Linked DNA regions of Homo sapiens: regions 1, 2 and 4 are each reported to be linked to region 3. The links are microRNA targets in miRTarBase. Many come from high-throughput screens and were not tested one by one. Region 3 holds a microRNA gene; each other region holds the end of a gene's coding sequence.
The links. Region 3 holds the annotated microRNA hsa-miR-3616-5p (AUGAAGUGCACUCAUGAUAUGU, at 2,453-2,474, opposite strand). A microRNA usually pairs through its seed, bases 2 to 8, with sites in the 3' UTR of a target mRNA and lowers its output. Matches are read on the target gene's strand: a 7mer-m8 pairs with bases 2 to 8, a 7mer-A1 pairs with bases 2 to 7 and ends in A, and an 8mer does both.

Region 1 (6,062 bases), not on the chromosome of region 3:
CCCAACAGTCAAGTTTTCAAAAAGCCCGCGCGTGGCGCCCCAGACCGCATCCGTTGGGAATGGCCCCCAGCGCGCCCCCTGCTCTCTCCCCGGCAAAGCCCTGGGCGGGAGAAGGCGCGGGGGTGGTAGGCCGGCTCTGCACGCCGGGGGCGCCGGGGCAAGCGCGCACCGGGGAGCGCGCCCGTCCAACAGCTGCCGAAAACGGAAGTGGGTGCGAGGGGATCACGGTGATTGGCTGAACTCAGATGTCTCTCAAGGGGCTGGCGCGAACGCCACTGCGGAGTTGGGCGAGGGGATGAGTAAAGGGGAGGGGGAGAAACACTGGGAACAGCCGCGGTGCTAGGAGGAAATGAATCGCGGTGGTGCGCGGAGGGCAGGGAGGGACCCATGTCAAGGGACAGTGGGGCGCTCGGGAATGAAAGTGGGCTGGCAGAAGCGGAAGCGGGAGCGGCACAGGCCGCGGGCTTGAATAGACCGCGGAGGGCGGGGAGTCCGTGATCTAGAGCGGCGCTGCGGCGCGGTAGGCGGGATTAAGGGGAGCGAGGCGGGGATTGGCTGGTAGCCCTAGGCTGCCGTACGTCGGCGGTGACGCACGCCTCGGGGAGGGTGCGCGCGCGTTCAGCGGCCTCTTTGTGTGGTGCCCAGATAGGGGAGCGGAGGTGGCGGCGGCGGCGGTAGCGGTGGCCTTGGTTGTCTTCCAGTCTCCTCGGCTCGCCCTTTAGCCGGCACCGCTCCCCTTCCCTCCCCCTTCCTCTCTTCCTTCCTTCCCTCCCCTTCCCTTTTTCCCTTCCCCGTCGGTGAGCGGCGGGGGTGGCTCCAGCAACGGCTGGGCCCAAGCTGTGTAGAGGCCTTAACCAACGATAACGGCGGCGACGGCGAAACCTCGGAGCTCGCAGGGCGGGGGCAAGGCCCGGGCCTTGGAGATGGAGAATTCTCAGTTGTGTAAGCTGTTCATCGGCGGCCTCAATGTGCAGACGAGTGAGTCGGGCCTGCGCGGCCACTTTGAGGCCTTTGGGACTCTGACGGACTGCGTGGTGGTGGTGAATCCCCAGACCAAGCGCTCCCGTTGCTTTGGCTTCGTGACCTACTCCAATGTGGAGGAGGCGGACGCCGCCATGGCCGCCTCGCCCCATGCCGTGGACGGCAACACTGTGGAGCTGAAGCGGGCGGTGTCCCGGGAGGATTCGGCGCGGCCCGGTGCCCACGCCAAGGTTAAGAAGCTCTTTGTCGGAGGCCTTAAAGGAGACGTGGCTGAGGGCGACCTGATCGAGCACTTCTCGCAGTTTGGCACCGTGGAAAAGGCCGAGATTATTGCCGACAAGCAGTCCGGCAAGAAGCGTGGATTCGGCTTCGTGTATTTCCAGAATCACGACGCGGCAGACAAGGCCGCGGTGGTCAAGTTCCATCCGATTCAGGGCCATCGCGTGGAGGTGAAGAAAGCAGTCCCCAAGGAGGATATCTACTCCGGTGGGGGTGGAGGCGGCTCCCGATCCTCCCGGGGCGGCCGAGGCGGCCGGGGGCGCGGCGGTGGTCGAGACCAGAACGGCCTTTCCAAGGGCGGCGGCGGCGGTTACAACAGCTACGGTGGTTACGGCGGCGGCGGAGGCGGCGGCTACAATGCCTACGGAGGCGGCGGCGGCGGTTCGTCCTACGGTGGGAGCGACTACGGTAACGGCTTCGGCGGCTTCGGCAGCTACAGCCAGCATCAGTCCTCCTATGGGCCCATGAAGAGCGGCGGCGGCGGCGGCGGTGGAGGCAGTAGCTGGGGCGGTCGCAGTAATAGTGGACCTTACAGAGGCGGCTATGGCGGTGGGGGTGGCTATGGAGGCAGCTCCTTCTAAAAGAAAATTTAAAATGCCTGGGAGTGGCTATAGGGGTAGCTCTTTCCAACAGCCCAAGTGGGGTCAACTCCTAAGCCCCACCCCCTCACACACACCGCCTTCCCTGTTTTGCCCTTGGGGGAGCCACTTCTAAGGCTGCTTACCCTTGGGGGTGTTCCTCTATTTGCCTGCCACCTCTCTTGTCTCTCCCTCTGAAGATGGACTCGGCCCCACATACACATTTTTGTGTTACAGTCATTGATGGACTCTATTTTTTTATTATTACTTGGACCTTGGTCGTTTTTATACTAGCAAAATGTCTTGTTTTAATTTGTGTTTTTTGGGGGGAGGGAGGGAGTGAACTTGCTGATTCTGTAGCAAAACCTGGGTGGGGGTTGGGGTGGGGGGTAGTTTACTTTGTTGTAAGGACTTGATAACCTGGCTACAGCGTTTTCTATGAAATCTACTTGGATCCCATGCCTGAAATTTGGAAGCATATGTACAAAAATCATTTTTACGTTTTATTTTTAATAAATCATTGTGTTTGACCGTACATGTCTAACATTTTTTTTCTAGGATCCATTCCGTACCGTTTTTTAAGGGATATTTGTTTAAGACTTTACGTGTTAATTCTTTATTCTTGATGTGTACTTAGAGAAACTTAAGAGGTCCTGTGGTTTTTTTCCCCTCTCCTGTTGCCCTGCTAGTTGCGTGTTGAATTATATCCCTTACAGGCAAAACTTTTGAAGTGGTGGATGTGGCTTTTTAAACTCTTAAGTTTCTGTGCATCCATCTCTTGTACTAAGCGAATTGTTTATCATCTTGACATGGTTGGTCATTTCTATGACAATTTACTTCAAACTGTGTACTGTGTAGTTCTATATAGTTTGTGTTAAGCATGTCATTCATATAAACTGTTTAAAATTTTTCAGATGGCCTAGTTTCATCCCTCTTACTGGTTTGTCTGTAATGAATGGTTAAAAATAAGGGTTATATTTTACCCTCAAATGCGTTTTTGTACTTTCAGAGCAGGTTTAAACGTTTTTTTTTTTTTTTTCCTATATCCGAACTGTTGGCCTCATGGAAATCCCTTTCCCGATCTTTGTAGCACCATCTACTGGCAGAATGGCAGAGTAGCTGCGAAACAATTTGTTTAAAAACTTGCTTAAGACAATTGCATCAGATTTGGAAGTTTTGCCATCAAAATTCTTTGCAGAATTGGAAGTTAACACATTTGCTTGTAACTGAGATGGGCTTCACAGGAATGTAGTTGCCAGTTCATATCACAATAGCCCTTTCTATATGAGGTTTGAAAATGTAAACTGCTATGCATAGCTTGGGCAATAGCCCTAAATTGCTATGACAACTAATGAACCAGCTACGTATACTGGTATTTTAGGTGCAAGTTGTAAAGCAAAATATCTGTGTATTCTGCTTGGTTAACAAATGTATATTTGTAGCCCTTTCCTGCAATAGCATTCAAGTTGTTGTTTATAAGAGAAGAACAAAAGTGATAATAGGTGAAAATTGCCTTTCTGGATAGAAATAGAGAATAGCAACGTTTATGGATATCACAAATAAAGAATTCAATTCTTTACATGATTGAGTGAGAGTATGTATAACCTGGTGGGTGGGTTCAGAGTACCTTTTAATCTAGTATGCTTAACTTGATGTTAATATTTAACTTAAATATTTGACTTACATGTTGACGTTGAAGGCTCAAAGCTATACTAAGAAGCTTTCTGAAAGATTGGGCTTTAAAATAAAATAATATTTTAATATTGAACCATTTTTTAACTTCTTGTCACTGTTCAATTCCTAAGGTCTAGTTCTTGCCAGTTTTTTTTTTTTTTTTCCTGATTGGCAGGGCTTTTAAAGAAGTAAGAAGAAAGGTTAAGATTATTAGGCTAGGTTATAGCTGCTCAGTAGTCATTTTGACAAAGGGTAGCGGATGGTTGGTACAAATAGTGTTATATCCTCTATGACAAACGGGGTGGATGTTTTTACACATTGAGGTAATACATAGTCAAATCCTTTGCTCTCAAATAGTTGTACACTTTCCATACATTTCTGTCTTATTTTTTAATTCTAGTGATACACAAATTACATGTGGGCTACTTCATTTGGTAATTTGGTCCAGCTTTTTGGTGGCTGTAGAGTGGCCTCTAGGATACAGAAAATGATTCTCTGAAATTTTTCGTTGTAATTGTTAAATACTACTCTGCTTGACTTACTCAGTTTTGGTGGGAAGATCTGGGTCAATTGGAATAGTACACCTTTCTCAGGGTTTTCAGTTTAATAAGGTTGTCATATTATTCCCAACATGGGAATATAGTGGCTTCTAAAGTTTGCAAATGAATTATGTAAAAGGATTTTCTGTGTATTAGGAAGGCAACCTGTTCTGTTCATGGTATATTAACACTTCATTGTCATGTGTCTACCCTTAAAATTGCTATTTGTAGTGAAGAAAAAAGCATAGTGGTATTTAGTCACTTCTGGGTTCCTCTTGTCAGTTTATATGCAAACATTTTGGCATGTGGGACTTGGGGAGGAGGGACAATTGGTTGTATGTTTTGACCACTTCCACCTATGAAAATTATCTGAACATTATTCAGATTTAAGAGTTCATGGGAGCAGGTGGTACAGAACCTAGTGTTGAATATAATTTTTGTGCCATGCTTGAATGTATTTTGACGGATTAGCAAAATAAAAGTGAACCTCCTATTTTTCATCTTAATGTGAAGATCTTTGGCATTTACATTCTTTTAAAAGTATAAATTCAGTAGTCATTAGTTGAAAGTGGTTTGAAAGGCTGTTAGAGATGATACAGGTTGAGTATTCCTTATCTGAAATTCTTGGGCCCAGAAGTGTTTTGAGTTTTAGATTTTTTTCAATTTTTGAATATTTCCATTATGTTTACCAGCTGAGCAGCTCTCATACAAAAATGTAAAATCCAAACTGCTTCAATGAGCATTTCCTTTGAATGTCATGTCTGCACTCAAAAAATTTCGGATTTTGGAGCATTTTAGATTTTTTGATTGGAATATCTGTAGTGTTTTTCAGGTCATTTAAAAAGCTCTCATTGGTACTGATTTACTGTATCCAAAAAAAAGCCTGCAAGTGGTTAAGGTTCACAGTGATAACTATCAAATCAGAATGACTATACTGATTGTACCCATTCATCCATTTTTAACTTAGTGATTTGGAACGTTTCATATTCAAATCTAATTTTCATAATTTTTAAGTAAACCTAAAAGATTGAGGATACTTGAGAAATTTGCATTTATGATTTCCTTCAAAACCAGAAGTGATGGTATCAGTTATTGGATTTGTAAACTTAGTTTACCTTTTAAGTGTGCTTAAGTTTTGAGAGTTTGCATTTTAGGTTAAATTTTGTCTGCCCGCGTCTGCTGATTGCAGATAGGCATTTGGATGTTGGATTTGGAGCAGAACTGCATCTAGACTACACGGATTTTACCCAAAAAGACAGCACTTGCACTTAGGCTAAGTGTCTTTCTCCATCGTAACCAATTTATTGAATCACTTTAAGAGTGATCATTGGGGAAATTTTCCTCCTCAGCCTTATTTTGGCCTTTTGAAACAGCAACAAAGACTGCCTAGTCAAATAACTCCTTAGCTGTCCTGCTTTTGAGTGAACTTCATATTTGCCTTGAATGAGAATTTAAATGTTACAAGGTAAAACATTTATTATAAAAAGATATTTGAAAGCTGCTATTTAAAAAGGAATTCCAAAGTAGGAAGACTAGAAGGGCAATTCTCTATTTTCCACCTATTTTTTTTACTTTGATTTGAAGCCAGATGATTTGAACCTTCAGAGAGGGAAAGGATTCAGGAAGACACCTTTGGTAGTTATTCTTAACTGTTTCCTTCTCTATTCAGGCAGGCTTTCTTTGTCTCTTTAATTCTTTTACCACTTTGTATGGTTTACTTAAAAAATCTATCTGAAATAGCTATCATTTCCTGCTATAAAGTTCTCAAGTGTAAACTTTTGCCATTTAAACAGTGTGCTTATTTCCCAGTGTTTACCGTCAATTTCATTGGGTGTTAGGCACCTTTGTGTAAGACAGTTCTATAATGTGGAGGTACACAGCAGTGAGACAAACATGGTTGCTGTCTTCATATACCTTGCGTTCTGGTTGGAATTCAATTTATTTTGAAATGGGAATTCAATTTATTTTGAGATGATGCATCTTTTCCTTTACAGCATTGTGTCACAATCTC
Region 2 (6,062 bases), not on the chromosome of region 3:
AAGCGTACGCTTCATCCAACCACATTTTACCACCTCCACTGCTGCCATCCTGGTCCAAGATCTCTTGCTGGATAATTGCAATAGCCCCTAACTGTTCTCCCTAGACCACTCTTCTACCTCGCTCTTGCCCTTCTCAATTCCAGTCCTCCACATAACGGCCAAATTCTTTTTTTTTTTTTTCTGAGAGGGTCTTCCTGGAGTGCAGTGGCTGGAGTGCAGTGGCACAATCTCAGGCTGGAGTGCAGTGGCGCAATCTGAGTTCACTGCAACCTCCACCTCCCAGATCCAAGCAATTCTCCCACCTCAGCCTCCCAAGTAGCTGGGACTGCAGGCGCGTGCCACCACACTGGCTAATTTTTGTATTTTTTGTAGAGACGGGATTTCGCCATGTTGCCCGAACTGGTATCAAACTCCCAGATTCAAGTGATTCGCCCACCTCACCCTCCCAAAGTGCTGGGATTACAGGCAGGAACCACCATGCCCAGCCCAAATTATTCTTTTAAACTAAATCTGATCACACATCACTGTCCTGCACAAAACCCTCCAATGCCTTCCCCCATGACACATAGCTCCCTGCAGATCTCTTGTCAAATGTTATCTCATCAGAGGTCTACAATCAGTGCCCTGTACGAAATAGTCCCACTCCCACCACATAGCTATCTCTTCAACCTGTTTTGCTTTTCCTCATAGCACAAACTACTCCCTGAATAGAGCATACATTTCTTTACTTGTTTACTGCATGTTTCTCCTCTTAGAATGTTAGCTCCATGAGGCAAAGACTTGACTTGACTTGTTGTCTGATGTACTTATTCCATGACCGTAAATCAATGTCTAGTGTGTGAGCACTCAATGAATAGTTGTGGAACAAATGAATGAATATGTTTTCTAAACACATATACAGAATTTAATCTGTCCCACTACAATTCTAAGTATTTTATGAAATTATTTTCATCTTCCTAAAAACTCTACTAAATAGGTTCCATTATCTCCATTTTATAAATAAGGAAGCTGAGGCAAAGAAAGGTTAATCACAAAGAAAATATGTGGCGGAGCTGGGATTCAAATGCAAGCATTCTGGCTCCAGGAGACACGCTCTTAATCACTATGCTACCTTTTTTCTTTTAACAAGAGGAATCATGCTGTAATTGGTCTATTCTGTGCTTTTTTCACCAAAGATCATGGATTTTTTAAATATTACAGGAATATACCATAGTTAATATAACCAGTCCTCTGGTAATGGACGTATAGATGATTTTCAATTTCCACTATCCAATCAATGCTGCCATGTACTACTGAGTAAGCACATTTTCTGTCGAGAGATAATGCTAAATAACTATCTTTAATCCCTGTGCAATATATATACACACACATCTATGTGTATATATAATATACACACACATCTATGTGTATATATAATATACACACACATCTATGTGTATATATAATATACACACACATCTATGTGTATATATAATATACACACACATCTATGTGTATATATAATATACACACACATCTATGTGTATATATAATATACACACACATCTATGTGTATATATAATATACACACACATCTATGTGTATATATAATATACACACACATCTATGTGTATATATAATATACACACACATCTATGTGTATATATAATATACACACACATCTATGTGTATATATAATATACACACACATCTATGTGTATATATATACACACACATCTATGTGTATATATAATATATACACACATCTATGTGTATATATAATATACACACATCTATGTGTATATATAATATACTCACATCTATGTGTATATATAATATACACACACATCTATGTGTATATATAATATACACACACATCTATGTGTATATATAATATACACACACATCTATGTGTATATATAATATACACACACATCTATGTGTGTGTGTGTGTGTGTGTGTGTATATATATATATACATATATATATATATATTTTTTTTTTTTTTTTTGAGACAGAGTCTCACTCTGTTGCCTAGGCTGAGTGCAGTAGCACAATCTCAGCTCACTGCAACCTCCGCCTCCCAGATTCAAGCAATTCTCGTGCCTCAGCCTCCCAAGTAGCTGGGATTACGGGCATGTGCCACCACACCTGGCTAGTTTTTTGTATTTTAGAGACAGGGTTTTGCCATGTTGCCCAGGCTGATCCCGAACTCCTGAGCTCAGGCGAACCACCCACCTCGGCCTCGCAAAGTTCTAGGATTACAGGCGTGAGCCACGGTGCCTGGCCTCCTGTACAATATATTTTTGTATGAAGTCCCTGAGATAGAAATCTAACTTTATTTTCTTCTAAATAGTCAACTGTCTCTCATTTTAGATTGACAGTATCTTGCTTTGCAGCTCCTTTAAAACTCTTCATGGAATAAAGTGGCATTTAAATGAGGAAATAGGCTGGGTGTGGTGGTGCTTCATGCCTGTAATCCCAGCACTTTGGGAGGACGGAGTGGGACCATTGCTTGAGCCCAGGAGTTTGAGAACAGCCCGGGCAACGTAGGGAGACCTCATCTCTACAAAAAGAAAAAAAAAAGTTAGCCGAATGTGATGGAACATGCCTGTAGTCCCAGCTATTCAGCAGGCTGAAGTGGGAAGATCACTTGAGCCTGGGAGGCTGAGGCTGCAGTGAGCCGAGATTGCACCACTGCACTCCAGCCTGGGTGAGAATAAGGTTGTGTCATAAATAAATAAATAAAGTCATTTACTTAACATTTACATAGCACTGATTATCTGACAGAGACTGAGGAAGCAGAAACGAGTAAGACACCACTCCAGGCCCCAGGGATCTTTCTTGAGGGAGATTCACATCCTCGGGAAAACAAGATGTATAGTGAATGAAGGAGGTAGCAGAGGGGTCTGCAGTAACTGAGTAAGGTATGGAGCTAGAGGACTAATACCTCCAGGATAAATGAATTTATACAAAGATTGTATTTGAGAGAAGAGGTGAGGAACCACTCACTAGTAGTTTTGAGTGCCCTGAAAGTGAAATAGATTGAATTTTGTCCTGGAGGTCAATGGGATGTTCCAGGACTTAAGCCCCATAGGACTGACAATCAAAAACAGGTCTGGCTGCACTGTGGGAAATGGATTGAGGGGGCGCTGGAGTGAAGGCAGGAAGGCTGTGAGACGTGTCAGACAGGACAGGTTGAACCTGGGGCTGAGAGAACTGAACCAACTGGAAAGGTCTCTTAAGGTCTCTTACAAGGTAAAAAGAGACCTAAGGCAGGTGTGAAGAGCGATAAGGCAAGGATGAGATCCAGGTTTCTGGCGTGGGTGTCCACGGAAATGAGAAACACGATGGGGGCAGAGCTGGGGAAAAGCTGGGGAGATCAATTTCTCGCCGAGCCTGTGGTGTCTGAGGGGCATTCAGGGAGCGATCTCCAGGGGGGCAGGTCTGGAATGAAAGAAGGAGCTGAGGCCGGGCATGGTGGCGCACACCTGTAATCCCAGCACTTTGGGAGGCCGAGGCTGGCGGATCACATGAAGTCAGGAGTTCGAGACCAACCTGGCCAACATGGTGAAACCCCCGTCTCTACTAAAAATACAACAATTAGCCGGGCGTTGTGGTGCATGTCTGTAATCCCAGCTACTCAGGAGGCTGAGGCACGAGAATCGCTTGAACCCGGGAGGCGGAGTTTGAAGTGAGCCGAAATCGCACCACTACACTCCAGCCTCGACGACAGAGCAAGACTCTGTCTCAAAAAAAAAAAAAAAAAGGCCGAGGCGGGCGGATCACAAGGTCAGGAGATCGAGACCATCCTGGCTAATACGGTGAAACTCCGTCTCTACTAAAAATTCAAAAAAATTAGCCGGGCGTGGTGATGGGCGCCTGTAGTACCAGCTACTCCGGAGGCTGAGGCAGGAGAACGGCGTGAACCCGGGAGGCGGAGCTTGCAGTGAGCCGAGATGGCACCACTGCCCTCCGGCCTGGGCGAGAGTGCGAGACTCCGTCTCAAAAAAAAGAGAGAGGAGAGAAAGAAAGAAAGAAAGAAAGAGATAGAGAAAGAGAAAGAAAGAAGGAAGGAAGGAAGGAAGGAAGGAAAGAGAAAGAAAGAAAAAGAAAGAAAGAAAGAAAGAAAGAAAGAAAGAAAGAAAGAAAGAAAGAAAGAAAGAAAGAAAGAGAAAGAAAAAGAAAAGAAAGAGGGAGCTGAGCTGAACAGATAGATATGTGGGAGTCATCAGAATAGACTAGTAGACGACAATGCCCAGGGGCAGGGCGTAGAGTCAGGGTGTGGAACGAAGGAAATCCTCGTTTTCGAGTTTCACCCCCTCAGGGAGGCCCAGCCCAAGCCCTGCCCGGCCCGACCCCACCTCGCCCACACGGGCTTGATCCCGCACAAGGGGCTGCGCGTGGCAGACAACGGTTCTTCCGGCGCCCGGCTCACTGGGCACGCTGGGAACGGAAGCCCGCTCCGAACGCCGAGCACTTCGGGAGCTGTAGTTTGGGGCAGGCTCAGCTGGGCGGGTCGAGGGCTCCCTGCGAGTCCCGGCGTTGGATCATTTGAAGGACAGGTCCAGAAAGCGGTGATGCTCCCGGGGCAGGGTGCCTCTCCGGCGGCGACACGGGGCGCCCCGGGCCTCATCCCCTCTCCGCAGGGCATGGCATTTCCACGCCTCCACAATCTGCTCCACCTGCAGAGCAAGGCCAGTTAGTGCGCAGTCCCGCGGTGGCCCCTCGCCCCGAGGACCGTGGGCCGGGCTGCTCCTGCCCCCTCCCAGCGCCCTGTACCCCCTGCTGAGTGGAGCTGGGCCGGTTCCCCGCGTCCCCACCGGGATGAGTGGTTCCTGCCGGTTCTGCTCTTCCAGGGCGCTCAGCTCCGCCGGGGCCAGCAAGGCTAGTCTCAGCTCTTTCACCACCGGGGCCGCCACCTCAGCCACCGGCCGCTCCAGCACCGCCTGCAAACGCCAGCCCTGAGTCGGGCACCTGTCCTGCCGCCCGCTCACCAGTCTCGTGGCCAGCACCTCCTTCCGTGCCCTTGCGCTCCCCCAGCCCCACTCACCGCGCCCACGCGCGCCCAGCTTCGGGCCGCGCGGACCAGTTCAGCCTCGTCCACGCAGAGCTTGTCGCTGCGGAGCAGGGGCAGCAGCGCGGCCGCCGACAGCTCCAGGAAGCCTCGGGTCCGGAGGGCCTCCTGCGAGCCGGCAAATGGGTCAGGGAGGAGCAGAATGCGGTGCGTAGGGTGAGGAGTATGAAGGGAGCAGTACCTGGCTGTGGGCCTCTATGAAAGCCACGCAGCGCTCCTGCAGCTGCCCCAGGCCAAAGGTTACGGCCACCTGCGAGCAGAATGAGGGAGATCAGGTTGGAGACTGGAGAGGCCGTAGCCCAGCCTGCTCACTGGGACCCACCACTGCAAGCCTGACCCTAGCCCTAGCTGGGGAGGCTGACAGGGCCCTCAGCCCTCCAGGAAACTAGACCCAATGAAAGCCTGCTACACACACACACACACACACACACACACACACACACACACACACACACACACGTGGACTCACTCTACAACCTGCTCTTCCCTACAGGAGACCACGCCATGGCCTTCAAACCCCACCTGGGACCTAGGCTTGATTTTTTTTGAGGCAGAGTCTCACTCTGTTGCCCAGGCTGGAGTGTGCAGTGGCGCAATCTCGGCTCACTGCAACCTCTGCCTCCCGGGTTCAAGCGATTCTCCTGCCTCAGCCTCCAGAGTAGCTGGGAGCATGCCACCACACCAGGCTAATTTTCTGTATTTTTAATAGAGACAGGGTTTCACCGTGTTAGCCAGGATGGTCTCGATCTCCTGACCTCTTGATCCGCCCGCCTCGGCCTCCAAAAGTGCTGAAATTACAGGTGTGAGCCGTTGTGCCTGACCCAGCTTGACTTCTAAAGTCTACAGCCACCCTTTCCCTACCCCAAGTCAAGCTGAGAACCATTCCCCAGCCCTGACAGACAGAAGACCAGCAAAGACCTCCAGCCCCTTCAACACCTGCTCCTGCACCTGACCCTGCTGATACACCCAGGATCCCACAGATCTAGGCACAGAATTCATCCTATAAA
Region 3 (6,062 bases):
GCTCAGGCTGGTTTTGAACTCCTGAGCTCAAGTGATCCTCCTGCTAAGACCTCCCAAAGTGCTGGGATTACAAGTATGAGCCACCACACCCGCCTAGTTGTGATTTTTGAGTCTGAGATGCAAAAGTCCCAGTTCTGGCTGGAGGCAGGCACTCCTTGTCCTTATAAGCAGCCCTCCTCTCCCACCCCACTTCCTAGTAGAAGGATAACTTGATAATCAATCAATCAATCAATGGGCATTTTTGACTCCCCAAATTCCCACCTTAAATCTTGGCCATTGTCATCTGATGAGACGTCATCAACGTGGATCTGGTCACAATCCTATGGAAAATTTGACAGAGAGAGAGAGAGAGAGAGAACATGCCTGGTTAATCTGATGTAGCCTTCAAGGGTTGGCCTCATAAGCTGAGGGCTGGGATGAGCACTGCACTGGGAGTCATCAGGCTCGGGTTCTAGTCTGGATTTGGATACTCAAGGTTAGAGGTCCTTGGGTTCAATCTCATCCTCTTTGTCTGTTTGGTTTCCTTATAAATGAGCAGGTTGACTGCAAGGAAAGTGACCATACAGATACTCTCCAAACAGAGAGAGTTTTGCATTAAAGGGGGATGGTATTATACTAGGGGGATAGGTTCAAACCAGGACTCCCCTAGGTCCCCAGCTTCCCAAGTATGGCCAGACATTTGGTCACCCTGGCCATATGGTGGACACCTCTGCCTCGCTAAAGGTGTTCCCCCTGCTTGAAATGCTCTCCTGCCTACATCTGCTTAGTAAACCCTGTGCTCTTCAAGTATTGGCTCCTGGAGGGACACCTGCTGTGCCTCATGATCTGTGATCATCATTTACTGAGCACTTACTATGTGCCAGGCACTATCCCCAGGGCTTGCCATTGAACAAACTCCAATGCCATGCTGTTTCCCACTCAGTTTCCTTGGGGAAACACCTCTCTCTGTGGGACAAGACCATGGGGTGGAGGCTGGGCATGGTGGCTCATGCCTGTAATCCTAGCACTGTGGGAGACAGGCGGGTGGATTGTTTGAGGTCAGGAGTTTGAGACCAGCCTGGCCAACATGATGAAACCCTGTCTCTACTAAAATACACAAATTAGCTGGGCGTGGTGGCAGCTGCCTGTAATCCCAGCTACTCGGGAGGCTGAGGCAGGAGAACTGCTTGAACCCAGCAAGTGGAGGTTGTAGTGAGCCGAGATCGCGCCACTGTGCTCCAGCCTGCATGACAGAGCAAGACTCTGTCTCAAAAAAAACAAAAAAACAAAAAAACAAAAGACTACGGGGTGGGGACAATGAAAACCAATCAGAGGGACCCAAGGTCCCCCTGGCCACAGTGATTGCTTCAAGGATGAACATGTGGTCTAAGGTGGGCCAATGGGAACCAGCCCGGGGACGTTGGCTGGCACTTTTGGAAGAGGTGCTGTCTCTTCCCTGGGGCTGCTGAATGGTGGATTAAGCCGGGAGCTGCTGAGGAAAGCAGGGCTGCGAGCTGGAGAGGGGGATGCCATGAGCATGCGATCTGATCCCCTGGATCCAGTCAGGACTGAAGCTGAGCCATCCCTGACTGTGCTGGGCCGAATAACGAACCCCCAAAGATGCGCACATTCTTATCTCGGAACCTGCAAATCTATTACTTTAAATGGCAATCAGGACTTTAGTTCAGTTAGAGATCTTGAGGTGGGAAGTTTTTCCTTGGCTGTCGGGGTGGGCCCTAAATGGAATCACATGGGTCCCTGTAAGAGAGACAGTGATCTGATGACAGAAAGGAGAGGGTGACTGGAGTCATGTGCTTTGAAGATGGAAGAAGAGACCACAGTCAACATACACAAGTGGCCACTGAAAGAAAAACTAAAACAAACAAAAAACCAAAGGGCCAGGTGTGGTGGCTTACACCTGTAATCTCAGCATTTTGGGAGGCTGAGGCGGGTGGATCACTTGAGGCCAGGAGTTTGAGACCAGCCTGGCCAACATGGAGAAACCCCACCTCTACTAAAAATACAAAAAATTAGCTGGGCATGGTGGTGCACATCTGTGGTCCCAGCTACTTGGGAGGCTGAGGCACGAGAATAGCTTGAACCTGGGAGGCAGGAGGCTGCAGTGAGCTGAGATCACACCACTGCACGCCAGCCTGGGCGACAGAGCGAGACTCTGTCTCAAAAAAAAAAAAAAAAAAAGTAAAAAAACCGATTCTCCTCTCAGAGCCTGACCTCCAGAACTGTAAGAGGACACGTGTGTGTTGTTCGAAGCCAGTAACTGGGGGAAATTTGTTACAGCAGCCCTGGCGAACAAATACACCCACTTTTCAGATTAAGTGAGTGGAGCTGGGTTTCTGGCACTTTGCAGCCAAGAGTCGTAAGGGATGCCATGTCCCATGTGGAGCCTACACGATGCACACCTGCCAACCCCGCCTGCATCATGAAATGCCCTCGTGACACGCTGATGGGGCAAACATATCATGAGTGCACTTCATGATGCTGGCGGAGTGACATGATAATATGTTGATGGGGCAAAAAATGTGCGGGGGTGCCAGCCCCTGCGGTACTGGTTCAGGGTGCAGGCTCTGGAATCTGACTGCCTGGGCCTGGATCCTGGATCCAACCGCTTCCCAGTGTGTGACCTTGAGTGAGGGGCATGACCCTCATGAACCCCAGAGGCCTGACTGATAAATGGACCTGATAACTGAACCCACCTCCAGATGAGGTGAGGAGAAGCGAGATGCTGCATGAGAGCACCGAGAACAGTGTCGGGTGCACAGTGGCTACTGCATACATGTTAGTTTCTACCACTGTGTTAAGATCTTACACATTTTCCCACAGTTTAGTTGCAAGGTGATTTCTCGAGGCAGCTGCCTCCTTACAAAGGCTGCTGGAGGAGGAGAAGCACGTGGGACTCTGAGCTTGACTACTGAGAAAAAATTGGTTGTAACATCTCTGGAACCTTGATGGGAGTAGAGAAATTGGAAGAAAGGGTATTTGCAACATTTTGAACAGATCTCTTTTTAGACAATTGGACAAGCAAAAAGCTTTTTTTTTTTTTTTTTTTTTTTTTTTTTTTTTTTTTTAGACAGTCTTGCTCTGTCACCCAAGCTGGAGTGCAGTGGCACAATCTCAGTTCACTGCCACCACCTCCCAGGTTTAGGTGATTCTCAAGCCTCAGCCTCTCGAGTAGTTGGGACTACAGGTGTGTGCCACCATGCCTAGCTAATTTTTGTATTTTGAGTAGAGATGAGGTTTTGCTATGTTGGCCAGGCTGGTCTCAAACTCCTGGCCTCAAGAGATCCTCTAGTCTTGGCCTCCCGAAGTGCTAAGATTGCAGGCATGAGCCACCGTGCCTGGCCAAAAGGCTTGAATTTATCTTTGAGAATATAAGCTTTGCAGGGGGATGGTGGGAAGCCCCTGCCTCATTCATTTTTTTTCTTTTTTTGAAAAATAGAGATAGGGTCTCAATATGTTGCCCAGGCTGGTCTTGAATTTCTGGGCTCAAGTGATCCTCCCGCTGTGGCCTCCCAAAGTGGTAGAATTACAGGCCTCCTCATTAATTTTTAAAAGATACGTAAGGTAGTCTTGTTGTTATGGTGATGTTTAGGGAGGCAAGAGAGGGGTCAGTGGCATCTGGGGCAGCCTGGGTTGCCCTGTGGGGAGCTGGGCTGGAATCTGAGAGAGGGGTTGGCAAGGGGGTAGTGTGGCTGCTGGTCCCTCTCCAGCCCCTTGAAAGGGCCTCAGATTAGAAAGGGTTTTGATGAAAGGTGAGGCTTGTTTCCAGAGTCCTTGACACACATGGGCCCAGGCACAGCAACTTTGTGGCAGGTGACAAAGTGCAACTGCCGTTCTCGCCTCTGCATAGGACCTTGCACCTCTGTGACCCACGGGCAGCACCCTGGGTTTGGACAGTGGTGTGCTCTTAAGGCCTGGAGACCAACGGCAGCAGGGAAGTACCCCCAGGTGGCTTCCTAGGGGTCAGCTCTGGGCAAATGGGAGTAAGCAGATGGCCAAGAACACAGTGGATGCTAAAGGGTGACCCTGAATGAGAAACTCACTGGGAAGTGGGGGAGTGGAAGGACACTGAGTGACCACTCTTGAGCCAGCAGACATCTGGTTACACCTAAGCTTTTACTGCTCAGTATTTCGAATTTCCTTTCTTTCCATTTACCCAGGACTCTGATTAATGCTTGGTGGTCTCAGGTATAATCTACCCCCTCTCCCCAAGAAGGAGTGATCTTTTTTGCAGTAGTCAAGCACGATGATACCCTCCACATTGAAAGAATCTAGAGCCATGTTGTCTAATATGGTAGCAATTAGTTGCCTGTGGCTAGTTATAGTTATATTGAAATTCAGTAAAGTTAAATAACATTAAAGGTTCAGTTCTTTAGTCCTACTTCAAGTGCTCAAGAGCTACATGTAGCCAGTGGTTATTGCAGTGAACGCTGCAGATATTTTATCATTGCAGAAATCTCTACTGGACAGCGCTGCTCTAGAGGGGTGAGGGAGCCAGGCCGGCAGCTTGTCTACTGTGTTGATAAGTTCAGTTAGGGAAGAGCCTGCAAACTGGCCTGGAGACATATCTACTTAGCTCATTGCATGTTTAAATTTTTTTGAAGCAATGGGCAATATGTAAACTTGGGGGATGTCCTCTCTCTTTTCTCTCTGCCTCCTCTTCCCTTTCTCTTCTTGTTCTTGTTCTCTCTCCAGATTTTCAGCTACCTCCTTCAGCCAGGGCATCCATTTACAGTTTCCCACCATCTCTACGGGGCTTGCTTCAGTTTACGTTACCTGGATCCTTGACCCCCCTAGGCATGTGAGTCTGAGACCTCTGAGCCATGGCCATATAAATGGATGGCCTAGAATGAGCAATCCTGACATGTTAAGGAAAATGGGATTTAAACGGCAACCGCTGACTTTACAGACCCAGGCGCAGAGGAAACAGCAGATAGCCCCCAGCTCACTGCTTTGCCTGAAACTGGAAAAACACCCCCTCCGCCCCCCAGGCCTTTCCTCAAGCTCTGGAGCCACTCCTGGGGTCACCCGGGCTCAGGCCTCTGGGCAGGGTTCCATGCGCTTTCCTTGATGTCAGAGGAAAGGCATTTGGGGAGGCTCTGTTTTTCTCATTTGTAAGGGGATTGTTGGGGGCGCTAAAGTGTGACAACAGTAGCAATCACATTTCGGACTTAATAAAATACCGTGACGCTCAGCTAGACGCTACCTCATACTCCACCAGCTGACCTGGATCAAGTTACCCCTTGAGCCAGCTCGGAGGGGAGCTGGACCGCGCAGAGGCCACGAGGATGGGGGAGCCTCCAGGGAAGAGAATCCCACGACCCTCAGCGCTGCCATCCCTCTCCTAGGTACGAGGGTGAGGGGACTGTAAGTCAGAGGGGAGACTTGTCCACACGAACTGCAGGGTGCTTCTGGTCTCTTCCGGGTCAAAGTATGAGTATCTTGGGGTGGGTGCTGAATGGCATCTGCTGGCAGAGACGGTGGAAGGGTTCCCGTGGCCTTGACACAGGTGAAGTGCAGTGGGGCTGAGGACCGGGACCTGGTGCAATCCCCGTCTCGAGGGATTTTTACTTTCTGACCCAGAGTAACACCTGCAAAGAGCCTTGTGTAAAAATGTCCATCATCCTGGTGAGAAACTGGAAAACACCTAAAGTTCCCTTGATGAGGTCGTAGCTAAATAAAATGTGGTATATCCATTCAGTGGAATCCTACCCAGCAGTGCAGAAAAAGGAGGTGGATTTTTTTTTTTTTTTTTTTTTTTTTGAGACAGTGTTTTGCTCTTGTTGCCCAGGCTGGAGTGTAATGGTGCAGTCTCGGCTCACTGCAACCTCTTCCTCCCAGGTTCAAGCAATTCTCCTGCCTCAGCCTTCTGAGTAGCTGGGATTACAGGCATGCACCACCACGCCCAGCTAATTTTGTATTTTTAGTAGAGACGGGGTTTCTCCATCTTGGTCAGGCCGGTCTTGAACTCCCGACCTCAGATGACCCCCCTGCCTCGGACTCCCAAAGTGCGGGGATTACAGGCGTGAGCCACGTCCCAAGCCAAGGAGGTGAATTTTTATGCT
Region 4 (6,062 bases), not on the chromosome of region 3:
AACAGATGTAAAAATTCTCTGCCATGCTCTATTTACAGGCTCATGTAGAAGACATAAGTGGAGAAGAGTATATAGTATTTGGAATGGTCCTCTTTCTGTGGGAACATGTGCCAGCATGGTCGGTGGTACTGTTTTTCCGGGCACAGAGATTAAACCAGAATTTGGTATGATATAATATTCCCCAATGCCTGTTCTCCTATTTTTAAAAATTATGGAACATTTATATTGATTTTCTATTTTTGGCAAAGGTTAAGACTAAAAATTATTATAGATTCTAGCCTCCTTTCTTAGTGGAAAAGTAAAACCTTCATATGCTATCTAATACTTTGTTCACAGGCACCTGCTGGCATGATAAATAGTCACAGTTATAGTTCCAGAGCTTACTTTTTCGACAATCCAAGACGATATGATAGTGATGATGACCTGCCAAGACTGGGAAGTTCAAGAGAAGGAAGGTAGATGTAACAAAGCCACTTAGCCTGAATTACTATTGAAATTGATTGAAAAAAACAAATCTAAGCTTTAACCAAAATATGAAAAAAGGTGATTTAGTGGTAATATGTCAATAAATAAGATCGGCAATACTGGAGTTTAAAGCAGTAGATGTTAAACCCAGGGTGGGACCTGCATTATCAGGAACTACCATTTGACTCAAAGCCTATATGCCTTTTGGCTAAAATGGTACCATTTCATTTCGGGATCACTTGTTGGTTCAGAGCTGTTTGTGGGAGGGGGATGCACAAGGAAGAAATACTATTATAGTGATTATATGTCTGTTTCCATATCTTTAGTGCTGGTCAAAATCCAGAGAAACCCTAGATAAAACTCTTGGGAAGCTTAATTGCCATAGGAAATGTTCCCATGCCCTCCTTGTTACAAAACCATTTCAAGTCCGTAACTAGTACACTATTGACTGTGATTCGGGCAAAGAGGAAAGCTTAATGGCTGAAGCCATGAAGCATAATGGCTTCAGCTTGATATGACATTTTCTGTAATCCTAACTTCATCTGGGCAAGTTATATAACCTCAGTTTTTTGAACCTGCTTTTCATCTGTAAGACAGGGATAATAGAACCTATTTCAGAGGTTTGTTGTGAGAAATGAATGTATATGTGTGTCTGCATACATACATACATACATACATAGATGTCTTAGAATAGAGCTGAGTACATAAGGACTACATTGTTGTCATCTGACAATCAAGTTCTACCAGTTCTGAGTGGCATTTATTCATTCTTTTGTAACATACTGCGATATAGAATCCAGGATATTAGATAAAAGTCATTAAATTTGTAGAAAAGCATTTTGTTATTTGACAAAGAACATATTTCAATGTATTTGAGTGCTAACTTTATTACAAAATTCATTGAAAATGCTAAAAATTCAAATGTGACTTCTTATATCCTGATCATAGTCCTATGGTCTTTTTGCCTTTTTTTTGTTGCAGTTTACCAAATTCGCAAAGTTTGGGCTGGTATGGCACCATGACTGGGTGTGGCAGCAGCAGTTACACAGTCACTCCCCACCTGAATGGACCTATGACAGATACTGCTCCTTTGCTCTTTACTTGTAGTAATTTAGATTTGAACAATCATCATAGCTTATATGTGACACCACAAAACTGACAGCATCACCAAGTCATGATTCTTGAGTTGTTTTTCATAAATGTGTATATTCAATGTGTTTAAATTCCATCTACATAAACATTCCATTATCTGTTGCAACTGAAAACAAAATCTGGAAGTGTGGCTGTGTTTGGTAAATAACACAGCTATTATTTTTGACCTCTTCATAGTAAAATGAAGTAAAATGGAAAGTTTGGAGTAGGAGAAAAGAGAGATTAGATCTTAAGGCACTTGATGGCCTCCAAAAATCCTGACTTTGGAACATCAAATGCATATGTGCACTTTTATCTTTGTTCTGAGTCACTGCAGTCCCCAAAGTCATATGCCAATGTTCACACTGAAATACTGTATTGTACACCAAACTGGAAGGCAATTTTCCTATGAAAATCAAAGCCGGTATATTCATTGGTATGCTCTATACAGATATCTTAATAAAAATTTTATAGTGTGAACAGTGCACAGAGTTAAGGCATAAAAATGTATCATTCTTTATAAAAATCTACTGAAAATGTGTAATCATTGAAGACAGTTCTTTTAAGCATGATTTTAAAATAGCAACTGAAATTCAATCATTTTAAACAAATGATGGTAGTAATCCATTAGTTATGGCCAGCAGTGTTCTTTGGAGAGCCACAATAATTTCAAGAGGAAAATATACCAGTGAAAATTGTGTGGCTATTTTGAGTAGAATTGGTCAGTTGATTATTTTGTGTAATTGAGATATATGTAGTAGTTTAAGCATGATTCTTGAAGAAAGCAATAGTGACTTTTGCATAGGGAGATTTTGGTAGAAACTTCTTGGGACTAAACAAGTTTAGAGATGCATTTAAGAATTATTCACAAAATGTGTAATTCTAAATTAAAACATAAATATATTTTCAAAAGCATTTGATTTCTCTGAAGCATGATATAGCTGGTCTTACCTAGTGAATCAGGATTGTCCTCAGGTAAATGAAATCATGATACATTATTGCAGTGAACTCAAGTGCAATACTTTGTAAGACATATAATTCCTATGATTTTCACATTTTTATATCTTATATATGGGAAAAGCCAAATTAAATTGAATTCAGATTAATTCCAGCATTAGACTAAATGAGCAAACTTAAGTAAATGTACAAACTAGGTAAGTATAAAACCACAGGTTAACAATATTGGAGTACTTTTAGAATTACATTAAAACTGTCTTAAATGTCCTATCCCAAATCTAAAAAAAAAGAAAATGGCAGGCTGAGATAATACAGAATTTTAAAATGCACTTTGTACCAGTGTCTATATGGAAAGAAGTAGATGCTGAATACCTCAAGATGCCAAGGGAACAAGCAACATTGGGAAGTTGTCACAACATGCTCAAAGACAAACTACAATTGTCTGCTAGCTATTTCTTCAGAACTGGAACTAATACGACTATCCTTTTCTGTTTTATACTTTGATTAGAATGTTATTTCCTCGCTTACTTAAAATGTACTTCAACTTTTTAACAACTGATACAATAACTTCATAAAAGTATAACACTAGGTTGAAACCTTAAGGAAAAATTGAAATTGTTAATGCTTTCGATCTTTTGGGAGGCCAGTACACAGACAAATAAATTTCTTCTTTTTATGATACAAAATGACTTTGTATTCAATCAGAAGCATATACTTATGTTATTTTGGGTTTGTTTATAATTCTCTCATTGTAACCAAATTATTTTAAAATGTATAGTATAAAAAGTTACCCGTGGTATTAAGTGACAAAAGCGTACTTTTATTACAACTCCAGTTGTTAGATTGCTTCTCAGAATGCTAACTGTTTATTTTGCTAATAATGTTAGGCATCTAATCATCTAGAGCTGTCCAAAAAGATATGTTGTCTTTGTTAATCCTTGGGGTTCAAGGTGATAAAGTTTTTCTAGTAAGGCTCCCCTCGATAATGTTCCTATTTGACCAAACTAACAAAGATTACTTTTTAAAAATTTTTCAGATAAAATAACTTGGTTCTTTCTGCTGCATTAGTTGATTGTTCCAAATTTGAGGTTTGTAAGTTTATTCTTATCACTGACTAGGGTACCCAAATTCTTGCATTTGTCTCCTTATACACATCTAACATATCACCAAAGACAAATAAAGATACACTCTGGCCCAATCTTTGCTTAAAAATTCCAAAGCACTAGGAGCACTTTAAGTTTGGTCTCGAAAGGAGTTGTTTATAAAATCAAAGGGCTACCGATTCCCTGTTCATCCTGCACTGAAGCACATGATGACAGTATCAAACCTTCATTTTTGTTCATTAAAAAGTGAATTTCATTACTTAAGTGTGTAATTCTATAGTGATTAGCAGTATTTGTTTTCATCATTTCACTTGGGTGGCCATTAATTTTGAAACCTTTACCACTCATTGTAGTTGGTTGTAGTTTTATGGAAAATGTAATTTATAGCTAAAGTGGCTTTTTTATGCATAGCTGCCTTTTTTATTGTTTAACAGTGTTTCTCAGCTATATAATCAGTTTCAAACTGGTTGTAAAAGTATAGCTGTGGCCAATGAATGTATTTATTTGTTGTTTCACTAAATTGTAACAAAACACTACTATTAAAAATAAAAGTGTTTGTGCTTTTATTTAGAGTTCTGGTTTTCTTCATCTCTTATAATGGACTATACTGAGTTTCTATCATATAAGAATAAGAACATAGTGCTACCACAAAAAAAAAAAAAATCAGGAGTTACAAATGATAGTTCGCCTTTAGTGATCTCATAATTACTTACATCTGGATGTCATATTGCTCCACATACACCAGTTTGACATGAAGTGCCATGCAGTTTAAAATGCCAATACGTTATTAGATAGTACAACATTTTTATTTTTATTTTTTAAGGGTTTTTTTTTAATACTTTAAGTTTTAGGGTACATGTGCACAATGTGCAGGTTAGTTACATATGTATACATGTGCCATGCTGGTGTGCTGCACCCATTAACTCATCATTTAGCATTAGGTATATCTCCTAAAGCTATCCCTCCCCCCTCCCCCCACCCCACAACAGTCCCCAGAGTGTGATGTTCCCCTTCCTGTGTCCATGTGTTCTCATTGTTCAATTCCCACCTATGAGTGAGAACATGCAGTGTTTGGTTTTTTGTTCTTGCGATAGTTTACTGAGAATGATTATTTCCAATTTCATCCATGTCCCTACAAAGGACATGAACTCATCATTTTTTATGGCTGCATAGTATTCCATGGTGTATATGTGCCACATTTTCTTAATCCAGTCTATCATTGTTGGACATTTGGGTTGCTTCCAAGTCTTTGCTATTGTGGATAGTGCCGCATTAAATGTACGTGTGCATGTGTCTTTATAGCAGCATGATTTATAGTCCTTTGGGTATATACCCAGTAATGGGATGGCTGGGTCAAATGGTATTTCTAGTTCTAGATCCCTGAGGAATCGCCACACTGACTTCCACAATGGTTGAACTAGTTTACAGTCCCACCAACAGTGTAAAAGTGTTCCTATTTCTCCACATCCTCTCCAGCACCTGTTGTTTCCTGACTTTTTAATGATTGCCATTCTAACTGGTGTGAGATGGTGTCTCATTGTGGTTTTGATTTGCATTTCTCTGATGGCCAGTGATGGTGAGCATTTTTTCATGTGTTTTTTGGCTGCATAAATGTCTTCTTTTGAGAAGTGTCTGTTCATGTCCTTCACCCACTTTTTGATGGGGTTGTTTGTTTTTTTCTTGTAAATTTGTTTGAGTTCATTGTAGATTCTGGATATTAGCCTTTGTCAGATGAGTAGGTTGCGAAAATTTTCTCCCATTTTGTAGGTTGCCTGTTCACTCTGATGGTAGTTTCTTTTGCTGTGCAGAAGCTCTTTAGTTTAATTAGATCCCATTTGTCAATTTTGGCTTTTGTTGCCATTGCTTTTGGTGTTTTAGACATGAAGTCCTTGCCCATGCCTATGTCCTGAATGGTAATGCCTAGGTTTTCTTCTAGGGTTTTTATGGTTTTGGGTCTAACGTTTAAGTCTTTAATCCATCTTGAATTAATTTTTGTATAAGGTGTAAGGAAGGGAGCCATTTTCAGCTTTCTACATATGGCTAGCCAGTTTTCCCAGCACCATTTATTAAATAGGGAATCCTTTTCCCATTGCTTGTTTTTCTCAGGTTTGTCAAAGATCAGATAGTTGTAGATATGCGGCGTTATTTCTGAGGGCTCTGTTCTGTTCCATTGATCTATATCTCTGGACCTCTTCAAGGAGAACTACAAACCACTGCTCAATGAAATAAAAGAGGATCCAAACAAATGGAAGAACATTCCATGCTCATGGGTAGGAAGAATCAATATCATGAAAATGGCCATACTGCCCAAGGTAATTTATAGATTCAATGCCATCCCCATCAAGCTACCAATGTCTTTCTTCACAGAATTGGAAAAAACTACTTTAAAGTTCATATGGAACCAAA

Region 1: miRTarBase lists HNRNPA0 as a target of hsa-miR-3616-5p. Seed matches in the 3' UTR shown: 7mer-A1 at 2,674-2,680 and 7mer-m8 at 4,240-4,246.
Region 2: the mRNA of BTBD19 is a reported target of hsa-miR-3616-5p. Seed matches in the 3' UTR shown: 8mer at 3,668-3,675.
Region 4: miRTarBase lists GPR137C as a target of hsa-miR-3616-5p. Seed matches in the 3' UTR shown: 7mer-A1 at 3,091-3,097.

Annotation. Positions count from the first base shown.
Region 1 is chr5:137,748,928-137,754,989 of GRCh38, reverse strand. It overlaps HNRNPA0 (heterogeneous nuclear ribonucleoprotein A0), which reads left to right and starts at 627. Exons shown (of 1, transcript NM_006805.4): 1 at 627-6,062. The coding sequence starts at 924. The coding sequence ends at 1,841. RefSeq lists a silencer at 1-267 and enhancers at 1-586, 848-1,197, 1,708-1,867, 1,277-1,968.
Region 2 is chr1:44,812,239-44,818,300 of GRCh38, reverse strand. BTBD19 (BTB domain containing 19) reads right to left here. Exons shown (of 8, transcript NM_001136537.3): 5 at 5,237-5,305; 6 at 5,032-5,163; 7 at 4,802-4,927; 8 at 2,716-4,663. The coding sequence ends at 4,529. Among named protein-coding and RNA genes, the nearest start is that of BTBD19, 6.7 kb to the right of the region's middle. RefSeq lists a silencer at 4,313-4,382.
Region 3 is chr20:47,163,397-47,169,458 of GRCh38, reverse strand. It overlaps MIR3616 (microRNA 3616), which reads right to left and starts at 2,492; the gene lies at 2,401-2,492. EYA2 (EYA transcriptional coactivator and phosphatase 2) reads right to left here. Exons shown (of 16, transcript NM_005244.5): 11 at 262-320.
Region 4 is chr14:52,633,492-52,639,553 of GRCh38, forward strand. GPR137C (G protein-coupled receptor 137C) reads left to right here. Exons shown (of 7, transcript NM_001099652.2): 5 at 39-164; 6 at 337-455; 7 at 1,447-4,222. The coding sequence ends at 1,624. Among named protein-coding and RNA genes, the nearest start is that of ERO1A, 59 kb to the right of the region's middle.